2 separate regions of the Homo sapiens genome follow, and region 1 is linked to region 2. The links come from fine-mapping of genetic effects on gene expression. A gene starts in region 2. The other region holds a variant in brackets. All regions are shown on one strand. Distances are from middle to middle.

What was found. PIP is the estimated chance that this variant, and not a neighbour inherited with it, causes the effect.
Region 1: its variant is fine-mapped to the expression of FIBP in whole blood (INTERVAL, PIP 0.92).

What each region holds. Positions count from the first base shown.
Region 1 is chr11:65,920,163-65,936,050 of GRCh38, reverse strand. DRAP1 (DR1 associated protein 1) reads right to left here. Exons shown (of 7, transcript NM_006442.4): 4 at 15,589-15,708; 5 at 15,389-15,482; 6 at 15,079-15,167; 7 at 14,488-14,721. The coding sequence ends at 14,616. Among named protein-coding and RNA genes, the nearest start is that of DRAP1, 8.7 kb to the right of the region's middle. RefSeq lists enhancers at 7,639-7,933, 7,648-8,077 and a cis regulatory region at 7,614-8,179. The variant A/TA (reference allele first, on the strand shown) is at 8,859.
Region 2 is chr11:65,883,588-65,892,314 of GRCh38, reverse strand. It overlaps FIBP (FGF1 intracellular binding protein), which reads left to right and starts at 3,844. Exons shown (of 10, transcript NM_004214.5): 1 at 3,844-3,981; 2 at 4,183-4,381; 3 at 4,589-4,715; 4 at 5,893-5,993; 5 at 6,652-6,785; 6 at 7,129-7,237; 7 at 7,317-7,380; 8 at 7,659-7,745; 9 at 7,826-7,923; 10 at 8,272-8,575. The coding sequence starts at 3,897. The coding sequence ends at 8,341. It overlaps CTSW (cathepsin W), which reads right to left. Exons shown (of 10, transcript NM_001335.4): 10 at 8,574-8,727. The coding sequence ends at 8,697. It overlaps CCDC85B (coiled-coil domain containing 85B), which reads right to left and starts at 1,642. Exons shown (of 1, transcript NM_006848.3): 1 at 680-1,642. The coding sequence starts at 1,531. The coding sequence ends at 923. It overlaps FOSL1 (FOS like 1, AP-1 transcription factor subunit), which reads left to right. Exons shown (of 4, transcript NM_005438.5): 4 at 1-266. RefSeq lists enhancers at 1-141, 182-231, 3,874-3,943, 7,169-7,228 and silencers at 1,372-1,851, 3,614-3,753.

The DNA.
Region 1 (15,888 bases), 40 kb before region 2:
CTACTGCACTCCAGCCTGGGTGACAGAACAAGACTCCATCTCAGAAATAAATAAATAAATAAATAAAAGCTGGAATTAGGCTGGGCGCGGTGGCTCACGCCTGTAATCCCAGCACTTTGGGAGGCCGAAGAGGGAGGATCACGAGGTCAGGAGATTGAGACCATCTTAGCTAACATGGTGAAACCCCGTCTCTACTAAAAATACAAAAAATTAGCCGGGCATGGTGGCGGGCGCCTGTAGTCCCAGCTACTCGGGAGGCTCAGGCCAGAGAATGGCGTGAACCCGGGAGGCAGAGCTTGTAGTGAGCCAAGATCATGCCACTGCACTCCAGCCTGGGCAACAGAGCGAGACTCCTTCTCAAAAAAAAAAAAAAAAAGCTGGAATTATAGGCATGAATCACCATGCCCCATCGTTTTGTTTTTAGAGACAAGGTCTCATATTGCCCAGGCTGGCCTCAAACTCCTGGGGTCAAGAGATCCTCCCGCCTCAGCATCCCAAGTATCTGGGATTATGGGCACATGCCACCCTCCGCTGCTAACACTGTGGTTTTTGTTTTTGTTTTTTGTTTTTTGATTTTTTTTTTTTTTGAGACAGAGTCTCGCTTTGTTGCCCAGGCTGGAGTGCAGTGGTGCAATCTTAGCTCGCTGCAACCTCCACCTCCCGGGCTCAAGCAATTCTCCTGCCTCAGCCTCCCAAGTAGCTGGGATTACAGACTTGCGTTACCATACCCAGCTAATTTTTGTATTTATTTTTTAGTAGAGACCAGGTTTCACCATGTTGGCCAGGCTGGTCTTGAACTGCTGACCTCAGGTGATCCGCCCGTCTCGGCCTCCCAAAGTGCTGGGAATACAGGCGTGAGCCACTGTGCCTGGCCCGCACTGTGTTTTAAAAGCCTTGTAGATCCTGACTGTTGCATAGTGTTCCGTAGTTTCCCTTTGTATGCTTTACTTAATTCATCCTTCTGACAATGGATGCCAGACTGGCTCCCAAGTCCTGTTCTCACAAAGAACACCGTGGTCAACACCGCTGCACATGCCTCTTTGTACACCTGAATGAGAATCTCTCTGGCCTACTTATCCAAGGCTGAGAGTGTAAGGTCTTGGCATAAACATACACCTAATTTCAGATTGCTTGAGAGAAGGGCTGTCAGTTTATGTGCCTACAGAAGACCAAGGATTTCTGTCTGCCCACATTCTCACCAAACATTGACATTATTCACCTTATGAATTTTGACTAACCCTGGGGTCATAAAATGAGGTCTGGTACTTTTTTTTTTTTTTCGAGACGGATTCTCGCTCTCTCGCTCTGTTACCCAGACTGGAGTGCAGTTGTGCAATCTCAGCTCACTGCAACCTCCACCACCCACGTTCAAAACAATTATCCTGCCTCAGCCTCCCGAGTAGCTGGGATTACAGGTATGTGCCACCACGACTGGCTAATTTTTGTAAAGATGGGGTTTCACCATGTTGGCCAGGCTGCCCTCGAACTCCTGACCTCAAGTGATTCACCCACCTTGGCCTCCCAAAGTGCTGGGATTACAGGTGTGAGCCACCGTGCCTGGCCAGAAATCCTTAATCTTTTTTTAAGTCTGGTAAAAAAAAAATCTTTAATTTTGATGGAGTTAGACTCATAAATGTTTTTGAATAGAGCTTTGTATTTTGAGAGTCTTTCTTTTCCTATCCCTAGGTGGGGTATTTTCCTATATTCTATTCTATTAGTTTACGCTTAACATCTGTGTCCATAACGAAATGCTCTGTGTACAGACTTTTCTGATACTGTCTTTATCTGGCTTGCGGGGGTCATACAAGAAATTGGGCAGCCTTCTCTCTTTCTGGCTTCTGTAACAACTGGTGTGAGATAAGGACCATCTGTTCCTCCAAAGGCTGGTAGAACTGCCCTATAAAAACATTTCTATTGGGTTTTTTCACATTGGAGTCTCAGATTACAAGTTTCTTTTTCTTTTAGTTTTTTTTTTTTTTTTTTTTTTGAGATGGAGTCTTGCTCTGTCGCCCAGGCTGGAGTGCAGTAGAGTGATCTCGGCTCACTGCAACCTCCACCTCCCAGGTTCAAGTGATTCTCGTGCCTCAGCCTCCCAAGTAGCTGGGATTACAGGCATGTGCCACCACATCCGGGTAATTTTTGTATTTTTAGTAGAGACAGAGTTTCACCATGTTGGCCAGGCTGGTCTCGAACTCCCAACCTCAGGTGATCTGCCTGCCTTAGCCTCCCAAAGTACTAAGATTATAGGCGTGAGCCACTGTGCCCGGCCTATTGTAGTGTTGTTGTTGTTGTTGTTTTCCCAAGAGACAGGGTCTCGCTATGTTTCCCAGGCTGATTTTATATTCCTCGCCTCAAATGATCCTTCTGCCTTAGCCTCCCAAAGTGCTGAGGTTAGGACGGGTGCAGTGGCTCACACCTGTAATCCCAGCACTTCGGAAGGCTTAGCCAGGTGGATCACCTGAGGTCAGGAGTTCGAGACCAGCCTGGCCAACGTGGTGAAACTCTGTCTCTACTAAAAATACAAAAAAATTAGCTGGGCGTGGTGGCTGGCGCCTTTAATCCCAGCTACTCGGAAGGCTGAGGCAGGAGAATCGCTTGAAAATGGGAGGCAGGGGTTGCAGTGAGCCGAGATTGCGCCACCACACTCCAGCCTGGGCAATAAGAGTGAGACTCCATCTCAAAAACAAAATAAAACAAAGTGCTGAGGTCACAGGCATGAGCTACTCAATTTTCTTTCCTGGTTATGGGTCTACTGAAGTTTTGATATTTTTGTGCCAATTTTGACATTTCACATTCTTCCAGAAAGGTATTTACTTTGCTTAAGTTTCTATATTTACCAACATACAATTATTTGTAATGTTTTTTGGTATTTTGATATTTTATGTTATTTGGAAATGGGGTTTTGCTATGTTGCTCAGACTGGACTCAAATTCCTGGGCTAGAACGATCCTATTGAGTAGCTGGGACTACAGGTGTGTGCCACTGTGCCCAGGTTGGTATTTTGATATTTTAAACCTCCATGGGGGGCTGGGCACGGTGGCTCACACCTGTAATCCTAGCACTTTAGGATGCCGAGTTGGGCAGATCGCTTGAGGTCAGAGGTTTGAGATCAGCCTGGCCAACATGGTGAAACCCCGTCTCTACTAAAAAAATACAAAACAATTAGCCAAGTATGGTGGCACACACCTGTAGTCCCAGCTACTCGGAAGGCTGAGGCTCAAGAATCACTTGAACCCGGGAGGCAGAGGTTGCAGCAAGCTGAGATCGCGTCATTGTATTCCAGCCTGGGCGACAGAGTGAGACTCCGCCTCAAAAAAATAAATAAATAAACCTCCATGGGGGGGTGCTCAAGAGTCAGATCACGTGGGGCCTGGGAGCCAGGGAAAGGATTCTGGGTTTGTCCTAAGGATGAACAGCGTGCAAGAATATTTGACTGAGGCTCTAGAATGGAATGGATATGAAATGCCAAAGTGAAGTGCTTGCTCCTGGCCAAACTGCAAAATTTTAAAGAAAGCAGAAACCCATGTTGCCACTGTCGAAGCCCCTCATCCACCGCAAGAGTATAAAGGGATCGAGGGTGGATTTGAAAGGGGCAGTTTGCGGTGATTTGATTTGGAAAGAGCTGCTATGGCAGTGAGTCTGCAGGGGGTGGAGCTGGGGAGCTGCCTTCTAACCTCAAATCTGGTGAGAAGTGCTTCAAGGAAGCCCCCCAGAGCGCTTGAGGTGGGCTTCCTGCAGTCATGGCACCCCCGTGGGTCATTGGTAGGAAAGGCCTCCAGAAAGGAGGTGACCTGCAGTGGGCACTGGACCGCAGGAATGGAAAAAGGGGTCTGGCCCCACGGGCTTGTTTTCTCTGGCACAGGGTATGCAACAGAGTGGGGTAGTGCATGCCACTTGAAAGAAAACCAGAGCCAGTCAACAGAGAGGGGCTGCCCCTTTGCCAGGAGTTTCAGTCAAGGGGGTAGTACATAAGGGAGCCCATAAAACCCCTGAGGGCAGGAGCCAGCTTTAGACAGCTGCCACCCAAGGAGTGAGATGCCATCTTACACCAGTGTCAATCCAGGATGCACTCTCTGCACCCACTGCCCTCCCTCCCTGTTCTCCAAAGGCAGCGTCTTCTCAAGCCTGGGAATGGGGCCAGGGAGAGGCGCAGACCCGACTTCCCTGACTCCTTATCAGTGGGGGCTGCAATGGCCAGAAGTGGAAAAAGCTGTGTTCGTTTTTTTTGTTTGTTTGTTTGTTTGTTTGTTTGTTTTGAGACAAGCTCTCGCTCTGTTGCCCAGGCTTGAGTGCAGTGGTGCTATCTTGGGTCCCTGCAGCCTCAAACTCAAGCGATCCCTGCAGCCTCAGCCTCACGACCAGCTGGGACTACAGGTGCGTACTACCACGCCCAGCCCAAGAATACTTCATTCTAAATCAAGTTCTGGGATTTGGCCACTACACAAAACTGGGCACTTTAATAGAGATTTGTTTAGTAACTTTAGGTGATCACAGGACGATGAGGAAATGGCAGCATAAGATGTAATGGCTGCACTCCCTCTGGCTGTGAGTAGAAATTAGACTGGAGGGCCTGGGGTGGAAACAGTGGCCTGTCATCCAGGAAGTGGGAGGGGAGGGGAAGGGAGGGGAAGGGAGGGCAGGGGAGAGGTCTGAGCCTGGGCCCACCACCATTCAGAGGTCAAGAGAGGTCAGGGAGATGTGGCCATGGAGACAAGACCACAGCCCACGGTGGGGAAGAAGATTGCCAAGAGAGGCCGGGCGCGGTGGCTCACGCCTGTAATCCCAGCACTTTAGGAGGATGAGGCGGCGGATCACAAGGTCAGAAGATCGAGACCATCCTGGCTCATACGGTGAAACCCCGTCTCTAGTAAAAATAAAAAAAATTAGCCATGCGTGGTGGCGGGCGCCTGTAGTCCCAGCTACTCGGGAGGCTGAGGCAGGAGAATGGTGTGGACCCGGGAGGCGGAGCTTGTAGTGAGCCGAGATGGCGCCACTGCACTCCAGCCTGGGTGAGAGTGCGAGACTCCGTCTCAAAAAAAAAAAAAGATTGCCAAGAGAGTGAGGGCCCCCATCCAAGTGAAGAAAGTGTTTCAAAGAGGAGGCAAGCGACCAACTATGACAAGAGCCACTGAGAGGTCAAGGCGAGCCCAAATGAGAACAACTGAATCGCCTGGACCCATTCTCCAAGGACTCATTGTGGGAGGCTTATTACAGGCTTTGGCTGTGCGAATGCGGCTGAGATTGGCCTTCACCACATCACACCGCAGGCCCCATCTGAAACTGTTCTTTTGCAGCTAAAGTCTAGGAAAAAATTTCTTTCCACTGAAGAAGTTTTCTCCGGAAAAAAAAAAAAAAGTTTTTTGCTTTGGCTGCCAGAAAGCTCAGAACTAAATTTGATATTGAATTAATAAAGCACTTTTACAGGCCTTTATGGGTTGCATATTTATATATGTATGCTATTGTTTCTGATCTTTATTTTCTCTTTTAATTATATTTTATTATTTTATTTAAAAAATTTTTTAATAATTTTTTTAGAGACAGGGTCTCACTATGTTGCCTAGGCTGGTATCAAACTCCTGGCCTCAAGTGATCCTCCTGCCTTGGCCTCCCAAAGTGCTGGGATTATGGTGTGAGCCATCCCATGTGGCCTAAATTTTTTTTTTTTTTTTTTTTTTCAGATAGAGTTTCGCTTTGTCACCAGGCTGGAGTGCAGTGGCACGATCTTGGCTCACTACAACCTCCATCTCCCGAGTTCAAGAGATTCTGCTGCCTCAGCCTCCCGAGTACCTGGGGCTGCAGGCGTGCACCACCACACCCAGCTAATTTTTGTATTTTTAGTAGAGACAGGGTTTCACCATGTTGGTCAGGATGGTCTCGATCTCTTGACCTCGTGATCCGCCCTCCTCAGCCTCCCAAAGTGCTGGGATTACAGGCATGAGCCACCACACCCGGCCTAAAATTTTTTGTTTTTAGAGATAAGATCTTGCTATGTTGCCCAGTCTGGACTCACATTCCTGGTCTCAAGTGATCCTCCCTCCTCGGGCCTCCAGAGTAGCTGGGAGTGCACCACTGGTAGCACGGGTGTATACCACTGCACCCATCCACATTCTTGAATCTCCATTTCTGTTTTTTAAATTTTACCTTCCTTGTTCTTGTTGGAAGCCACCTCAGGTGCACTGGGAATGTGGTTTGCAAATTAATCAATGGTATTTCATTTATTCGGCAAGCATACAATGATGTCTTGTAGTAGTCAGGTCTCTCTAGCATACAATTGGCCTAAATACATTATTAAAGATAAAAATAAATGTCTTCACCCATTCTCTGTTGCTTATAACAGAAAACCTGGAACTGGGTAATTTATTTAAAAAACGGAGTCTTGCTCTATCGCCCAGGCTGGAGTGCAGTGGTGCGATCTCGGCTCACTACAACCTCCACTGCCCAGGTTCTCGCAATTCTGCAGCCTCAGCCTCCTGAGTAGCTGGGATTACAGGCACCCACCACCACATCCAGCTAATTTTTGTATTTTTAGTAGAGATGGGGTTTTGCCATGTTGGCCAGGCTTGTCTTGAACTCCTGATCCCAGGTGATCTGCCTGCCTCAGCGTTCCAAAGTCCTGGGATTACAGGCGTGAGCGATTGCACCCGGCCACATGTGCTGTCTTGAGTCTCACGGCCACCCCTGACCAATGGCTGTGGGGAGGGTATCTTGACCAGCGGTCCTGGAGGTGCCACCTGGTTGGAGTGGGGTGGGCGTCAGTTCTCTAGGGATACGGATATGATTTGGGGTGGCCTGAAGGAAGAAGGGCAGGGCAGACCCATGCACAAAAACATGCCCACCACGTACCTACCACGTGCCAGGCCCTGTGAGACATCCTGGAGACACAGACGTGAATCCGACAGGCCCTGTGTCCCCAAGAGGGGCGCTTTCCAGAAGTGGAGGTGAAACCTGCAAGCACAGTTATCCCAGCCAGAGCATGGGAAGAAACTTGGAGAGGGGACAGGTGAAGGACTTGGGGAGTTCAAAGGATGAGGAGGGACTCTAGGTTCTGGCCTTGAGGAAGTAAGGTGAACTGAAATTGCCCTTTTTCTACAAACAGCTAAGAAACTGGACAAAGCACAGGAAACAAGTGTTTTCAGATATTAGACAAAGGGCAGCTCAGGGCTGTGATCCCTGAAAAACGGAAGATAAAGGGGAGGAGCCCTGACATTGCATAGGTGATTTTCCTACCACTGCACTGGGAGGGCAACCGTTGTTCTCACCGAGTTAAGAAGACGAGACCAGAGTTTGGGAAGGCTCATCTTCAGGGCTTCTGATCTAACTGAAGACAGGCCCAGATATGGGTATTTTAAAGTTCCCCAGGGTCGGCCGGGCACAGTGGCTCAGGCCTGTAATCCCAGCACTTTGGGAGGCCGAGGCGGGTGGATCACTTAAGGTCAGGAGTTTGAGACCAGCCTGGTCAACATGGTGAGAACTTGTCTCTACTAAAAATACAAAAAATTGCCAGGCGTGGTGGCGAGTAGCCTCCCCAGCTACTGGGGAGACTGAGGCAGAAAGGAGAATCACTTGAACCTGGGAGGCAGAGGTTGCAGTGAGCCAAGATCGCGCCACTTCACTCCAGTCTGGGAGACAGAATGAGACCCTGTCTCAAAAAAAAAAAAAAGAAAAAAAGAAAAAAAAGCTCCCCAGGGTTCTAAGATGTAGCCAGGGTTGAGAACCACTAGGCTAATCTGCAACTCCAGACAAAGGCGGAAGGGGGGCAGGGAACCCACAAAACAGAAACCAAACTCTAAGAAAACGGGTAAGAGGAAAGTGAAACCGACTCTGGGCACCAGGCTGGAATGGAAGAGCATCTGTGGCTAAAAACAGGGCAGCCGCACCCCCCTGGAGGAACCAGGGCCCTGCCCACCCACTTGCTTGCTGCGGCTTCAACACGCTGGCCTCCTCGGGGTCCCCTCTCCCCACTACCCCTGGAGAGGCGTGAATGTACCTATTTGTTTACCATCAGTCTGCTGCCCCTTCCCCCAACTGGACTGAGCTAGGGAGCAGAGGCTCTGTGTGTTTTCTCTGAGTTCACCTTCCCCAAGCCCAGAGCAGGGCCCGGCACAGAGTAGGTACTCAGCAAATATTTCTTGAGTGACTGAATGAAGACAATGTATGATCCCATGAATCCTGCAGGGCCATGCTTTACCCTGCCCTATGTGATGCTGTCCCCTGAGGTTGGGCCCATTCTGACAATGTCTTTTCTGTTTTTTCAACACAGGGTGCATAGAATCAAGCAGACATGCGCCTTAGTTTGGGGCACTCCATGCAGCCATAGGGCCCTGAAAAGCTTCCCTTTTCTTTTCTTTTTTGTTTGTTTGTTTGTTTGTTTGAGATGGAGTTTCGTTCCTGTTGCCCAGGTTGGAGTCCCATGGCACGATCTTGGCTCACCGCAACCTCCGCCTCCCGGGTTCAAGCAATTCTCCTGCCTCAGCCTCCCGAGTAGCTGGGATTACAGGCATGCGCCACCATGTCCGGCTAATTTTGTATTTTTAGTAGAGATGGGGTGTCTCCATGATGGTCAGGCTGGTCTGGAACTCCCAACCTCAGGTGATCCGCCCACCTTGGCTGCCCAAAGTGCTGGGATTACAGGCTTGAGCCACCACACCCAGCCTAAAGCTTCCCCTTTCAATGGACTCTCCCCTTCCCTGCATCCCAGTCCTACTCCTGCTGCTTTGAGCCACGACATCCCCTTGTCTGTTTAGTACATGCCCTTCCAATCTGCTTTCCAGGATCTTATTTCCATAAATGTCCATAACAGCAGGCACCATTTATTGGGTGCTTACTGTATGCCAGGCACTGTGCTGAGCGACTTACAT[A/TA]TCATATCTCATGAAACCATCACATGTCCCTGAAGGAGGTGCTATTATGATCCCCGTTTTACAGATTAGAAAATAGAGATAGGCTGGGCAAGGTGGCTCACGCCTGTAATCCCAGCACTTTGGGGGGCCGAGGCGGGCGGATCACCTGAAGTCAGGAGTTTGAAACCAGCCTGACCAACATGAAGAAACCCTGTCTCTACTAAAAACAATACAAAATTAGCCGGGTGTGGTGGCGTATGCCTGTAATCCCAGCTACTCGGGAGGCTGAAGCAGGAGAATCGCTTGAACCTGAGAGGCGGAGGTTGTGGTGAGCCGAGATAGCACCACTGCTCTCCAGCCTGGGTGACAAGAGAGAAACTCCGCCTCAAAAAAAGAAAAGAAAACAGAGGTAGAGGCCAGGTGGGGTGGCTCATGCCTGTAATCCCAGCACTTTGGGAAGCTGAGGAGGGTGGATCACTTGAGGTCAGGAGTTTGAGACCAGCCTGGGCAACAAAGTGAGATCCCATGTCTCAAAAAATATATATATACATATATATATGTGTGTACATATATATACACACACATACACACACACACATATATATACACACATATATAGGCACACACATATACATATAAAAATACATATATTTGTGTATATAGAGACATATACATATATATTTGTATCTATACGGTCTCGTCCATGTTCTGGAGCCGAGCATCCCTGTAACTTGGAAGGAATGGCCTCAGGTGTGGCGGGATAGGTTGTTAACTTCACCTCTCCATGCCCTGTTCCACACACACACCTGTGTTTAAGTCCAGACCCACCCTAATCAAAGGCCCTGTACCAAAAAGGGGAGGGACCAGACCCGTGGTGGAGGGTCTGGATCACAAGTACCATTCCCTTGCCTTTCTTTTATTTATTTATAAAAGAAAACAGGCCAGGCACGGTGGCTCATGCCTGTAATCCCAGCACTTTGGGAGGCCGAGGCTGACGGATCACTTGAGATCAGGAATTTGAGACCAGCCTGGCCAACATGGCTAAACCCTGTCTCTACTAAAAACACAAAAATTAGCCGGGCATGGCGGCACGCACCTGTAGTCCCAGCTACTCAGGAGGTTGAGGCAGGAGAATCGCTTGAACCTGGGAGGTGGAGGTTGCAGTGAGCCAAGACTGCTCCACTGCACTCCAGCCTGGGCGACAGAGAGAGAGATTGTCTCAAAAAAATGAAAAGAAAAAGAAAAAAGAAAACAGAGGTAGAGACAGCTTAAAGTCACTTGTCCAAGGTAACAGAGTAAGTGGCAGAAATGCCGTATAAAGGATTCTCATGTATGTCTGCGTTTTTTGTTTCTTGTTCTCTATTTGACTATTTGTCACTCAGCACTCTGCATTTAAGCTCTATCCCTGTTGCCTTCTGCCCAGGCAGTTCTCCATTGATGGACACTGATTTTTCTGCCACCTCAAACCATGCCTAGGACACATCTCTCTGCTTGTGAGAGGTTTAACCCAGGAGTGGACCTGCCAGGGGACACACAACTGCCAAAATGCCCTTTCAAACATCCCCACTAACTTACATGCCTACCAAATGCCAGAATTCCATTCACTGGCATCCTCACTAGCAACAGGTTTTATCCGGTTTTCAGTTTTATCTGATGGGCATTGTGTGGGATCCTGTTTTTCTTTGCAGCTCTCTGATTACTGGCAAAAATCTTAGTCCTTATTCCATTTTTTAAAACGACATTTGAACACACAATAGGAAAAATGGGATTTCAGAATAGAAATAGTTCACTCTGATGATGGGAGGTGGCAGTCACATAGCCCTGTCACTCTCCGGATACAAGGAGCCCCCCGAGAAAGTCCAGACCCACTCTCATCAAAGGCCCTGCACCAAAGAGGGGAGGGACCAGGCCCCTGGTAGATTGTCCAGAGCACGGGTGCCAGTCCCCTGCCTCAGGGCCCATAGCCTAATTGAGTGGGAATTTGGTCGTGTCTATGTCCTGGAGCCAAGTGTCCCTGCTCCAGAGAAAGGGATGGCCCTCGGGTGTGTATTGGGGGTTAAGCTGTTAACTCCACCTCTCCAAGTCCTGGACGACATACATGCCTAGACCAAACCCCTGCCTACCTCTGGGCCACTATGTCACTTCTAGAGCCTCAGTCTCCTCATCCATAAGGTGGGGGTATGAGGACATCTCTCCTAGAGGAGGGCTCGGGGGTGCAGGGAAACTGATGGTGGCCTCACACCTGACAAGCACAGAGCAACGTGCTGCTGCAACGCCTCCTGCCTCCCATCAACCACGGGGGAGGCATCCGCAGACCTATTTCATGGCTGTGGAGGGCAAAGCCCAGAGAGGGAAAGGGGAAATCAAGAGATCCCATAGCACGTCAGCTCCCTGACCAGGCCAGGGATGAGGCTGGGAGAGGACGAGCAGGTTCACTCAGTCATTCAACTCTCCTTCCCCTTCTGCCTCCTTCCCCAGCCTCTGGGGCCCCAGGTCCAGCAGCACCCAGGGCAGGGGTGTGGTAGGTGCCCCATGCTTCTTCCTTCTCCCTTTGCACCAAGCTTCTCAGGCCCAAGGGGCTGTCAGTGCCACAAGGACACCTCCCAGCTAAGGTGGGCTGAGTCCAGAGCTGGTGGCCCCTGAGTCAGGCCCTGGGTGGTGGCTGACGCAGTGGGAGCAGAGGAGACCACAGGGAAACTGACAGATTAAATCCAATTCTCCCAGACTTTGCCCTTGCTGTTCCCTCTCCCTGGAGCCCTCTCCCCACGGAAGGCTGTGAGCCCGCCCACTCCATGCTCACTGTCACCAGAGTCTTGCCTGAACTCAGTTAAGAATGCTGGCCCCCCAAAGCTGGGTGTTGTGGCTCATGCCTGTAATCCCAGCACTTTGGGAGGCCGAGGCAGGCACATCACAAAGTCAGGAGTTTGAGACCAGCCTGGCCAATATGGTGAAACCTCGTCTCTACTAAAAATACAAAAAATTAGCTGGGCGTGGTGGCAGGCACCTGTAATCCCAGCTACTCGGGAGGCTGAGGCAGGAGAATCGCTTGAACCCAGGAAGTGGAGATTGCAGTGAGCTGAGATCGTGCCACTGCACTCCAGCCTGGGAGACACAGCGAGACTCCGTCTCTAAAAAAAAAAAAAAAAAGGATGCAGGCCTCCCTTATCACCCTGGATCGCCTGTTTTGCTTTATTTATTTTCCCCACAGCATGGATCACCATCCGACATGCGATTCATCTTTTATTTTTTGAGACGAAGTTTCGCTTTTGTTGCCCAGGCTGGAGTGCAATGGCACAATCTTGGCTCACTGCAACCTCCGCCTCCCGGGTCCAAGCGATTCTCCTGCCTCAGCCTCCCGTGTAGCTGGGATTACAGGCGTCTGCCACCACACCCGGCTAATTTTTTGTATTTTTAGTACAGACGAGGTTTCACCATGTTGGTCAGGCTGGTCTCGAACTCTTGACCTCAGGCGATCCACCCGTCTCACCCTCCCAAAGTGCTGGGATTACAGGTGTGAGCCACCATGACTGGCATGATACATCTTTATTGTCTGTCTCACCACTTCAGAAATAAACTCCAAGAACATTTTGTTCACTTGATCGCTACTACCTAGAACAGTGTCTGGTGTGCAATAGGGTCTCAATAGATAGATAAAGATTAAGTAAAACTTTTAGGAAGGTATCAAAGAAGTGCACCAATCTTCAGTGTACAGCTTAATCGTTTTATACATAACCCAGGTCAAGTTGAAGAACACTTCCAGAAGGCTCCCTGTACCCGACCCCCAGCCAATCCCCACCCCTTATGGATGTACTGACTTCCATCACTGTTGATTAGTTTTTCCTGTTCCTGAGCTTGGCTTAAATGAATTACATCAGGGTGTACTCTTTTTCATTTTTACTAATTAATTTTTGAGGCAGGGTCTCACTCTGTCGCCCAGGCTGGAGTGCAGTGGAGCAATCTCAGCTCACTGCAGCCTCTACCTCCTGGGTTAAAGCCATCCTCCCACCTCAGCCTCCTGAGTAGCTGGGATTATAGGCGGGCCCCACTATGCCCAGCTAATGTCTGTATTTTTCTGTAGAGACAGGGTCTCACTATGTTACCTAAGCTGGTCTTGAACTCCTGAGCTCAAGCGATCTGCCCACCTTGGCTTCCCAAAGTGCTGGGACTACAAGTGTGAGCCACTGCACCTGGCCCATGTACTTTTTTGTTTGGCTTCTTTTGCTCCACGTAAGGTCTACAAGATCTACCCAGGGAGTTGCATTGACAGTGGTTCCTTTTACTGCTGTTCTATCATACAACATTCCACCATTTACTTATTCCTGCTCTTGCTGATGGGCATTTGAGCTGTTTCCAGTTTGGGGCTACAGGCTTGTACATGTCTTCCAGTGGCCCTATGCCACCATCTCTCTTGGTAGCTACCTAGGAGTGGAATTGCTGGGTCATAGGGGAAGTGTGTGTGTTAATAAGAAACTGCTGAACGGTTTTCCGAAGTGGTTGTACTTACTGACATTTCCACCAGCTGTGTATGAGTGCCGTGTAGCCTCTTCCTCTGCAGTACTTGGGGATGTCAGACTCTTTTTCTTTGAGATGGAGTTTTGCTCCTGTTGCCCAGGCTGGAGTGCAGTGGTGCAATCATGGCTCACTGCTGCCTGGAACTCCTGTCCCAGCCTCCCAAGCAGCTGGAACCATAGGCATATGCCACCATGCCAGCAGACCTTTAAAACTGAATGCCTTGCGGGCTCCAGGAGGCCCCATGTGGGCCACCTGCGCCCTCCCCAGCCTCACCGAGTACCTCTGCTTTACAGGCAGCACAGCTCCTGGGTCTGCTCTGAAAGGTTATCTGGATGAACAGACTGTGTCACTGCCCTGCTCAAAAACCACCTTCAAGACCCTCCACCATCTCTCTATGTTTGCTCCTTTCCACCTGCCCTTCACTACACTGGACACAGGACTCTACAGTTTCCAAGACCTGTACCTGTTCCCTGTCCCACTTATCCCTTCACAGCAGACTACAGGGGGCAGAACAGTCTCCATCAGAGAGACAAGGGGCTGCTCAGAGCAGGGCAGCAGCCCGCCGGGGGTCAGCAGCCCACCGGGGGTCAGCAGCACCACGTGGCAAGTGTCCCCCGCATGCCCAGCACTTGCAAGCTCTCCCAACTCCCTTCTGTCCGCAGCTGTGGTGCACTCAGCAGACCCAGGGCCTCCAGCCTCCCCGGATGACCCCTCTCTCCCCTCGCTGCCACCTCACCTGCCACTGACGCGGCCCCAGCTCCCAGTTTCTTTTTTTTTTTTTTTTGACATGGAGTCTCACTCTGCTGCCCAGGTTGGAGTGCAGTGGCGTGATCTCAGCTCACTGCCACCTCCACCTCCCAGGTTCAAGCGATTCTCCTGCCTCAGCCTCCCTAGTAGCTGGGATTACAGGCATGCACCACCACACCCAGCTAATTTTTGTATTTTTAGTAGAGACGGGGTTTCACCATGTTGGCCAGGCTGGTCTTGAACTCTTGACCTCAGGTGATCTGCCCGCCTCAGCCTCCCAAAGTGTTGGGATTACAGGCGTGAGCCACCGCACCCGGCCCCAGCTCCCAGTTTCATGTGGGGAAGGCAGGTGGGTGGATGGGATGGCAACCATGACGTCCTGCGCAGAGCCTGGAACAGACACTGAGATTCCCTTTTATTTTTTTTTTTAATAAATTTAAGAACAGCTCTACCTTCTCTCCTCCCCCCAGAGCAACTAAAACCAACTAAAAGGGGCTATGGTCTGGGGGGCAGAAGGCGCTAGGAGTCGTAATCTTCTTCGTCCTCTTCATCAGGTGCTGAGGGGCCCGGGGGCGCTGGGGGCAAAGGCAGAGTAGAGGCGAAGGGCAGGAAGGGTGTCGGGGGGCTGCAGGGCAGAAGGCAGGAGAGAGTCAGGCCTGAGCCCCACCGTGCCCTCCACAGGGGCAGCTGCCAAGACCCTCCCTCCCCCATCTGACCCTCCCACCACCACCCTCCAGATCCATGCGGCCAAGGCCCAGGGCAGCTCACGCAGGGCAGGCCCAGGCCCCACCCACGGGCCCTGGCAGGGTGGAGCAGGATCTTTCGGGAGAACAGTCTCCTGCCTTCAAGCCCTCCTCAGTTATTCTCCTTCCACCCCACAAATCTGCCACAATCAACAAGACCAAGGGGCCAGGGAGAACAAGAGGGGTAAGTTGGCTCTGGGGAGTCTGCCAGCACCCTCCCATGCCTCTGGGCTGCTCACCTCTGAAAGTGGGCAGAGGGGTGGCTGGCCTGGGGTGGGGGTTGTGATGTCTCCTCTTCCCCATCAGTATCTGTGTCCTCAGATTCATCCTGTGAGCACCGCAGAGGTCAGAGTTGACAAGAAAAGACACGAACCCATCACTGGGAGTGGCAGGGACAGCAGTAGACCCTCATAGCCCCAATTTACAAATAAACCAGTGAGCAAACAGGTTGCAGAAAAGGATGAGAGCTGGCCTCCTGCCAGTTCAGCCTGGGGCGAGGCTGCCTGTCCCATCACCAAGGGCAGGGCGAAGGGCTGGGGCCTCACTCACCTCCTGCTCCGAGTCTGTCCCGGACAGCTTCTTGTCCTTGCTTTTCGTTCCCATCCCACCGTTCTTCCGGCCGCCGCTGCCTGGCTTCCGGCCCCTTTGGGAAGGTACAGTCCATCTGCCCGGAGTGCTCCCTACTCCTTGGCCACCCCCAAGCCCTGTGGCCTTGGCCTTCCCCACTGTATGCCAGGCCCTGGCCCCACCTGCGGGCGCCCTTGTCCCCATCCATGTGGTTGTCTTCCCCGTCCCCCTGCATGTCGGGAACAGATGCCACCAGGTCCTTCAAGAAGTCAAACTGCTGCTCCAGCTCGATGCACTGCTTCCTGGAAGAGGTGAGGAGGGGCTGGCACTCAAGAGGGGCCCAGACACCCAAACCCGCAGTGGGTGGCAGCAAGGGGCCCCAGATGTCAGGCTGGAGCCCGGGCCGATCTCCGCTCCCGGGCCTGCCCTGCTTTACTCAGGTGGCTCCCTCTGCCTGGAAGCCCAGCCTCTCCTCTGCCAGT
Region 2 (8,727 bases):
AAGCCTCCACAGCGAGGGCAGCTGCTATTTATTTTCCTAAAGAGAGTATTTTTATACAAACCTACCAAAATGGAATAAAAGGCTTGAAGCTGTGGCCTGAGTGCCTCACTGGACCCAGAGGCCAATGGGAGAGTATTTGGAGCCCTAGGTCCCAGCCTTAGCTCTACAGACTCACTGCATGACCTTGGACAAATTCTTTGATATTTTTGGACTTTGTCTTATCTGACAAGTGGGGCTACATCCGCTCGGCCTCATCTCCGGGACTGAGGGGAGACAGTCCTCTGGGGTAAAAGCGAAGAGGCTTACCGCCCCTCTCCCCGTGGGGGCCCACAGTGCTGCTGCGTGTGCCACGGAGGGGCGCTGTTATGCCCCCTTCCAGCCTCAGAGGAGGCGGCCGAGTGGTTCTAGGCCCCCAGCACCTGCTTCCTGCCCCATTGTCTTGGACAGGAAGGAGCCGGGAAGGGAGCTGGAGCCACTTCAGGGGCTGGATTAAGGCCGGTCCCGGCGCCCGATGGGGGAAGTCTGGTTTACCACTGCCCCGCATCCCACCCCAGGCTCGAAGTAATGGGGGAATCATTAGTTCTGCAGTCCTTCTGGATGGGAATTGTACCCTGTATCAGCACCCCACCCTCGCCCCAACCCCGGCGAGTACCAAACAGACGCTGCCCAGGCCGTGGGCTCCGCTTCCGTCCGGGTTTATTACCCCCAATCCAACCCCCAGCAAGTCCCTCCGCTCCAGCCTTCAGTCCCCCTGCTGCCCTGCCAGCAAGAGCGAGGGGCCCTTCTTGGTGTCAGGATTTCTTAGTCCATGCCAGCGGCCCCTCCTGCGCAGCCAGGACGGCGTCCAGGTCCCGAGGTCCACAGCGGTCCCGGGGCTCGGGGAGCAATCCGGGCGGGCGTCGGCGTGGAGGAAGCAGTGCCTTCAATCATCGGGGGAACAGGCCAGGGGCAACTGATCCGGACTGCCCACGCTGCCAGTGCTGGAGCTTCCATCGCCTAGGTCGCGGGGCCCGCACGGGGGCAAGGCAAGCTCGGGTGCTGGCCCGGCTCCTGATCCCCCGGCGCCGCTGGGGCCGCCGCGGGGGCCCCATTCTTCGCCCAGCGCCAGGCAGAGCTCCTTAAGCGCTAGGTTCTCCCGCAGCAGCTCCTCCTGGCGGCCCTCCAGCTCGGCCAGCTTCTGCCAACAGCCGCCCAGGTCCTCGCGCACGGCCCGGGATGCTTGGGTCCCGAAGAGCTGCCACTGGCGTGCGGCGCGCCGCCCGCGCTGGCGCTCCGAGTCCAGGAAGCAGCAGAGGTCGCGCAGCTCACGGTTCTCTGCCTGCAGACGCCGGTTGAGCTGCTTGAGCTCGCGGATCTCGCCCAGGTGGCCCTGCAGCTGCCGATTCACCTCCTGCATGAGGCGGCCGCGCTGCACCAGTGCCGCCAGGCGCGCCGCCTCCTCCCGCCGCAGGCGCCGCACTAGCTCTTCCTTGCCTAGCGCCGCCATCTCCTCGTCCGTCAGCTCCTCCAGGCCGCCTGCCTCGGCCTCCATGGCTGGTCAGGCCTCTGGAGCATCGCCCGCCCGCCGCCGCGGCCCAGGAGCCCCACGTCGGGCCCGGCGCCACTCAGGCTCGGGCTCCGGCTCCGCACGCGGCAGGCAGTGGCCGAGGCAGCGTAGGCTGCAGCAGCTACCCGGGCTGGGCACGCGGCGGGGCGCGCGCCGGGGCGGGGCCGCATGTCGTTATGGAAGGACAGCCAATCCGGTGAAACGTCCCCGGAAAGGGGCGGGGCCTGAGCTCAGGGGCCGCCCCCCTCGTTCCCCACCCACTCCGGGTGTTACTGATCCTCGATGTCAAGGAACCCGCGCGTCATCGCCCTCCACATCGGTCTCAACCCGAAACTAGGAGCTTCGAACCTCCAAGTACCGGATCGCCCCAAGCTTGAGCCTAGGCCTCTCGGCTCTTCTGAGAAACAAGATTCAGGCGTCCGCCCCTGACTCCTGCCCATCCCCCACAGAAGTCAGATGGACCGCTCTCCAGTCCCTCTTTACCTTTGATCAAATTCGGAAGTCTCGGCCCACTAAGGATCGCTCCTGGTTCCTCGGAACCCTGAGTCCAAACGTCCTAGCTCACCAATAGACTACCCTCCCTCCCAGGGAGCGTTTCCTGCCTGGGGGGAGGAACATACAGGATTCGTTTGTTCAATAAACGTTTTTTATGTGCAAGGCCCATGCAGAAATAAATTTAACCAAAATACCGATTCCATCCTCAAGGAGGTCGCAGTCTGTCCGGGAAGTCAAGCTGTGTTAAGCAAGAAATAAATCCGGGAGGAGTATGGTCTGAGGGTCCTTAAGAGGGTTCCCAAAAGAGATGCTATCCAAGAGGCTCTGGTAGATCCATAGGACTTTGCCAAGTAAAGAGCTATTTCAGGGAGAGAGAATAACATAGTGAAAGACACTGGTGCCCGAAAGAGCCTAGCTGCTTTAGGAACAATGAGGATAGCTTGGTTTTTGAAAAGCAGATGTGTCGAGAAAATGCTAAGAGAGAGAGAGCGAGGCTTCAAAGGTAGGTAAAAGCCAGATTCTTAAGAACTTCCAGTACCAGGTTGGAGCATTTCCAAAGGCCACTAAGGATGTTAAGCAAGAGAGTAACATTTGTAAGGATGTTAAGCAAGGGAGTAACATTTTAAAATATGCCTTTAACTGGCCAAGATGGTGAAACCCCGTTTCTACTAAAAATACAAAAATTAGCCGGGCGTGGTGGGAGGAGCCTGTAATCTCAGCTACTCGGGAGGCTGAGGCAGAGAACTGCTTGAACCCGGGAGGCGGAGGTTGCAGTGAGCCGAGATCGCGCCACTGCACTCCAGCCTGGGCGACAGAGCGAGACGCTGTCTCGAAAAAAAAAATGTATTTAAAAAGATTGGGCTGATCTGTGTGGGCCGGACCCTGCGGGGAGGGGACATAAACAGGGAGATTAGTAACGGTGTCAAAGAGCAAGAGCAAGGAGAGCTAAGCAGAAAGACGGCTGGGGCAGCATCAGTGGGGGTGGAGAGGACAAACAGATACTAGAAATATTCGGGAGGCAAATCAGCCGAACTGAATGTGGGGAGAGAGGAGTCTGGAAGAACGCCCAGGTTTCTCGTATGAGAACTGGTGGATGTTAGGGCTGTCACTGAGATAGGGACGCAGGAAAGAAACAAATGGGGAGAGGCAGAGGTCTGTCTAGAATATGTTGAGCTTTTGAGGGGCTTACGGGAAGAGTGTGGATAGACTTGGCCGATAGGCGGCCCCTCCGGATGTGGACTTCCAGGCAGAGCTCGGAGGGGCAGAATTAGAGACGTCAGTAGCTCGTGGGGCTGGGGGTGGGATTAAAACCAAGGTGGGAGCAGGTGCCCCAAACCCAGGAGAGGTGCTCATGCGCAGGATGGACAAACCAGTCTCCAGCAAGAGCCCGAGGAAGTCGGGTCATACCCCATTTTTGCGGAGATTTAGGATAGAGCCCTGTGAAACCCCTAAGTTTAGGATACAGGTCAAACTTAGGAGGTCCCGAAGAGGGCAGAGAAGGTGGGAGAAAAGCCAGGAGGAAGTGAGGGGAGAAGTTACGGGGACCGAGGAGACGAAGAGGAGGCACTCCCTTCGTGCTCCTGCAGACGGCCGGGGAGGGAGACAGGACGCAGGAGCCCGGGACTCCCCCTCCCGGCGGGAGGAAGCGGTGCTCCTCCGCGCAGGCCTCCCCCTCTCTTCCCTCGCCGCTCCCGCCCCGTCCCCTCCCCGACTGGCTGTGTCCCGGAAGTGGTCATAAGCTGGGTCCCGATGCCGCGAGCGGAATCTCGGCGCTCCCGGAAGTGGCCTGAAGGCGGCGCGCCAGTCCCGAGCAGTGCTCGCTCCTGCTCGGGGCGCTGCGGCCCCGGGCGTCGCCATGACCAGTGAGCTGGACATCTTCGTGGGGAACACGACCCTTATCGACGAGGACGTGTATCGCCTCTGGCTCGATGGTTACTCGGGTCCGTGAGGGGCGTGTGGGGAAGCCAGTCGGCGGAGCGGTTGTGTTGAATGGGAGAGGGGGCGGGGCTAAGACTTGGGCATCCTTTAGGGAAGTGGGCGAGCGCCTGGGAATAAGAGGTGTTATAGGGGTCTGGGATGGAAACCCTTAAGGGCCTCTGGCGTCGGCGGGGCGGGGCCTGATGCTAGCGTCCGCTTTCCAGTGACCGACGCGGTGGCCCTGCGGGTGCGCTCGGGAATCCTGGAGCAGACTGGCGCCACGGCAGCGGTGCTGCAGAGCGACACCATGGACCATTACCGCACCTTCCACATGCTCGAGCGGCTGCTGCATGCGCCGCCCAAGCTACTGCACCAGCTCATCTTCCAGATTCCGCCCTCCCGGCAGGCACTACTCATCGAGAGGTGCTCACCCTCTGGGATGGTGGAGACATCAACCAGTCTGACTGTATACCCATTTTGCCGGCTGAAACAGGCCCAGGGAGGGATGGGATTTACCCAGCCATCAGAAAGTTGAGAGTGGAAGGGGTCAGACCTAGGCCCTGCTAGGCCCCGCCAGACTCCCTTTCCTGTCTTTTATGGAGGGTCAATGGTGTTCTCTGACTCCACAAGGTACTATGCCTTTGATGAGGCCTTTGTTCGGGAGGTGCTGGGCAAGAAGCTGTCCAAAGGCACCAAGAAAGACCTGGATGACATCAGCACCAAAACAGGCATCACCCTCAAGAGCTGCCGGAGACAGGTATGCACTGCATCCACACGGACACAGCATCCCATCTACACTTCACTCCCTCCCTTTGGCCACTGGCCCAGTTCCAGCCTCTGATTGTGGCAGCAGCTTCATACCTAGTCTTCTCCTCCCTTCCCCTTTCCCCTCCTTTTTTTTTTTTTTTTTCGAGATGGAGTCTTGCTCTGTGGCCCAAGCTGGAGTGCAGTGGCGCGACCTCAGCTCACTGCAACCTCCGCCTCCTGGGTTCAGGTAATTCTTGTGCCTCAGCCTCTGCAGTAGCTGAGATTACAGGCGCCCGCTCCCACACCCAGCTAATTTTTGTATTGTTAGTAGAGACAGGGTTTCACCATGTTGGCCAGGCTTGTCTTGAACTCCTGGCCTCAAGTGATCATCCGCCTCGGCCTCCCAAAGTGCTGACATTACAGGCGTGAGCCACCGTGCCTGGCTCCCTGTTGTGCCTTCCAAGCTATCCTGTACTGTATGGCCAGAGTGACCTTTCAGAATGACCTGAAATTTTATCAGACCCCTGATAAACTTTCATTGGCTCCCACTGCCTCCTGGGTAGCAGCTGCACTCCTTGGCTTTGACCTATGGACTGTCCTGTTATCTCATCCCTGCAGACCTCTCTAGGCTTACATTTCTCCAGCCCCAGGCTTTCCTTTACTCATGTTGCTTCTACCTGGAGGGTACTGTTCTTGGCAATATCTACCCCTTGAAATCCAAGACAAGAGGTGAGATGCCACCTTCTCCACAAGCCTTTTTGGTACGCCAGGAAGAAGTAACCCTTCTGGGTCTTTGATGCCTTTCTTTTGTATCTCCTGTGAGCTTTCTGTTTATAGCTTAGCATTTGTTTTTTATTTTTTAGTTTCTAGGGCTTAGCCAGGAAAGTCTCTTCCAACTCAAACTTGTGAAGATCTGGAGAGCATGGTGCTAAAATGGGGTTGGATTTAGAGATAAGATTGAGTAAACATTTATCCAAGGCAAGATACAGCAGGAGTTGCTAAGCATTTGATTTGATAACAAGTACTAATAACTAATAGTTGGTTGAAGGAATAACAAATGCTAAATCAGCATCTGCTGACTGGATAGGTGGATGGGGAAGGGAGAGATGTTCAATAAGTGGTTTATTGGGTGAGCGACACAGTGTACACTCTGACCAGTCCTCTCTTCTACCCTAACTGCCCTGCAGTTTGACAACTTTAAACGGGTCTTCAAGGTGGTAGAGGAAATGCGGGGCTCCCTGGTGGACAATATTCAGCAACACTTCCTCCTCTCTGACCGGTTGGCCAGGTGAGGAGCTAGCCACCTCCCCATCCCGCACACTACTTCCTGGGCCCGGAGGCTCGTCCACCTTCCCTACCCCAAACCTTCTGACCTCCTGAGTATGCTGGGGGAATGATTATCCCACTTTTGGTCTGTACTTTTTTTTTTTTTTTTTTTTTAATGAGACGGAGTTTCACTCTTGTTGCCCAGGCTGGAATGCAATGGTGCAATCTTGGCTCACTGCAACCTCTGCCTCCTGGTTCAAGCAATTCTGCCTCAGCCTCCCGAGTAGCTGGGATTACAGGCTTGAGCCACCGCACCCAGCTTGGTCTGTACTTTGGACCAGACTGACCTGGATTCAAAGCACAGTCCAGCGATTTCCAGCTGGGCTGTTGAGAGGTACCATATGTAAAGCCCATGGCACAGCCCTGGCACTTAGGAAGTGCTCAGTAGATAGTAACTGTTACCCTTATGGTCTCCCACTGTATCCACTAGTAAACTTGAGCTGGAACCTTCTCTTCGCACAGATGGGGAAGGGTCATAGAGAAGTGACTTGAGACACGTCACACAGTGACTTGAGGCAGAGAGAGGCCAGAACTCGGACACCCAGCTGAGGTTGCAGGTGGGAGCTGCTTCCTAAGAAGGAATTTCAAGCCCTAAGAGGACCCTCCTCTCGTCTGTGCAGGGACTATGCAGCCATCGTCTTCTTTGCTAACAACCGCTTTGAGACAGGGAAGAAAAAACTGCAGTATCTGAGCTTCGGTGACTTTGCCTTCTGCGCTGAGCTCATGATCCAAAACTGGACCCTTGGAGCCGTCGGTGAGGCCCCCACTGACCCAGGTGCCTGGACGCCTCCCCATCCTCAGGACCTGATTCCCCACCAGTAGTTTCTCCCACAGGCCCTCAGTTCCTGGCATCCGCTCCTGTTCATGGCCCCCACCCAGGCTCCCCCTGCCCATAGAATGTTTTCCCCACACACACCTTGTCTGCAGACAAAGGGCCCATTGCCTCTCTGTGGCCTGGGGCATGTCACTCCATCTCTCTGACACTCCATTTCCTCTTTTGTCCCCAGGGGGGAAATAAGGTGGTGGGTGAGGAAAGGCTTAGGCTATCACAGGAGGGGTTTTTATCACCCACCCCCACCCCCTTCATGGCCTCACAGACTCACAGATGGATGACATGGACATGGACTTAGACAAGGAATTTCTCCAGGACTTGAAGGAGCTCAAGGTGCTAGTGGCTGACAAGGACCTTCTGGACCTGCACAAGAGGTGACCTTGTAGGGGCCCATGGGGCGGGGCCTGCAGTAGGGGCCCAGGTGGCTATAGGCGTGACCCTGTCTCTCTGCAGCCTGGTGTGCACTGCTCTCCGGGGAAAGCTGGGCGTCTTCTCTGAGATGGAAGCCAACTTCAAGGTCTGTGGTCCCATCCAGCCTCTGACCCTTGGCATCTTCAGCCTCCAGTTCGCCACCCCTACCGGGCAGCTCTGCCCCTGCCAGGGATTGGCCGGCAGGTGGCACTGCTGCTCCCTCTGGTGGCCGCTGACGGGAGCAGCTCATAAACAATGGGGACTTGGTTGATGGAGGGAGGTGGATGGATCTGGGGAGGGGCCTGCTCCTCCTCCCCCAGCTTCTGTGCTCAGCTGCCAACTTCTGGGGCAGAAAGCAGAGCTCCAAGGATCCCTGCCCCACAGAACCTGTCCCGGGGGCTGGTGAACGTGGCCGCCAAGCTGACCCACAATAAAGATGTCAGAGACCTGTTTGTGGACCTCGTGGAGAAGGTGAGCTGTCGTGCTCTCTGACACCCAACCTGGTCTGTCCCTGGCCTATACAAGTGCTAAGTATTCTCTTGGGCCCGCAGTTTGTGGAACCCTGCCGCTCCGACCACTGGCCACTCAGCGACGTGCGGTTCTTCCTGAATCAGTATTCAGCGTCTGTCCACTCCCTCGATGGCTTCCGGTGAGCAGCCCTGTCCTCCTGTCCAGCTTGGCTTTGCCCCAGCCTGCCACCTGCCAGGACCTCGCCTCCTGCAGACTCAAGGTTCCCCATTCTGCTACCCTGGGGGTGGGACCAAAGTCTCTGGACCAAAGCTCTGGCTCTCCCTCTTAGAAGCTGTGTGATTTGGGGCAGGTTTCTTAACCTCTCCATGCCTCAGTTTCCTCATGTACAAACTAGGGTTCATCATGAGAAGAATTGTAAGGATTTTCTAAGGGCAAAATGAATGAAGGTGTAGAAAGCACGCAGGGCAGGGCCTCCATCACGGTGAGTGTTGTGAAAACTCAGCTGTCACTGTTCATGTTCTTACAGACACCAGGCCCTCTGGGACCGCTACATGGGCACCCTCCGCGGCTGCCTCCTGCGCCTGTATCATGACTGAGGTGCCTCCCAACGCTCCGCCCACGCTGACAATAAAGTTGCTCTGAGTTTGGAGACTGGTCCTCGCTCCGGGGAGCAAGTGGGGGGCGTGCAGATGTGCCTGTGTCTGTCTCTGAGCACCTGGTGTCCGTGTACAAGGATGGATGTGTACAGTGGCTCCTTGGGAACTGAGACATATCTCAGGGAATGGTGTCTGTGCTCAGCCCATCCACCAGAAGAGTCTGCTCACAAGCCAGAGGTCTTGTCTTGGTTTATTCAGGCTGTATTGAGATTGGGAGGATGGGCAAAAACCTGGGGGTGGGGCTGGCAAGGAGGCAGTTGGCCTAACAGGACAGAGCTGAGGGGGCCAGGTGGGTTCAGGGAGGGCAGGAGACTCGGGGCTTCATA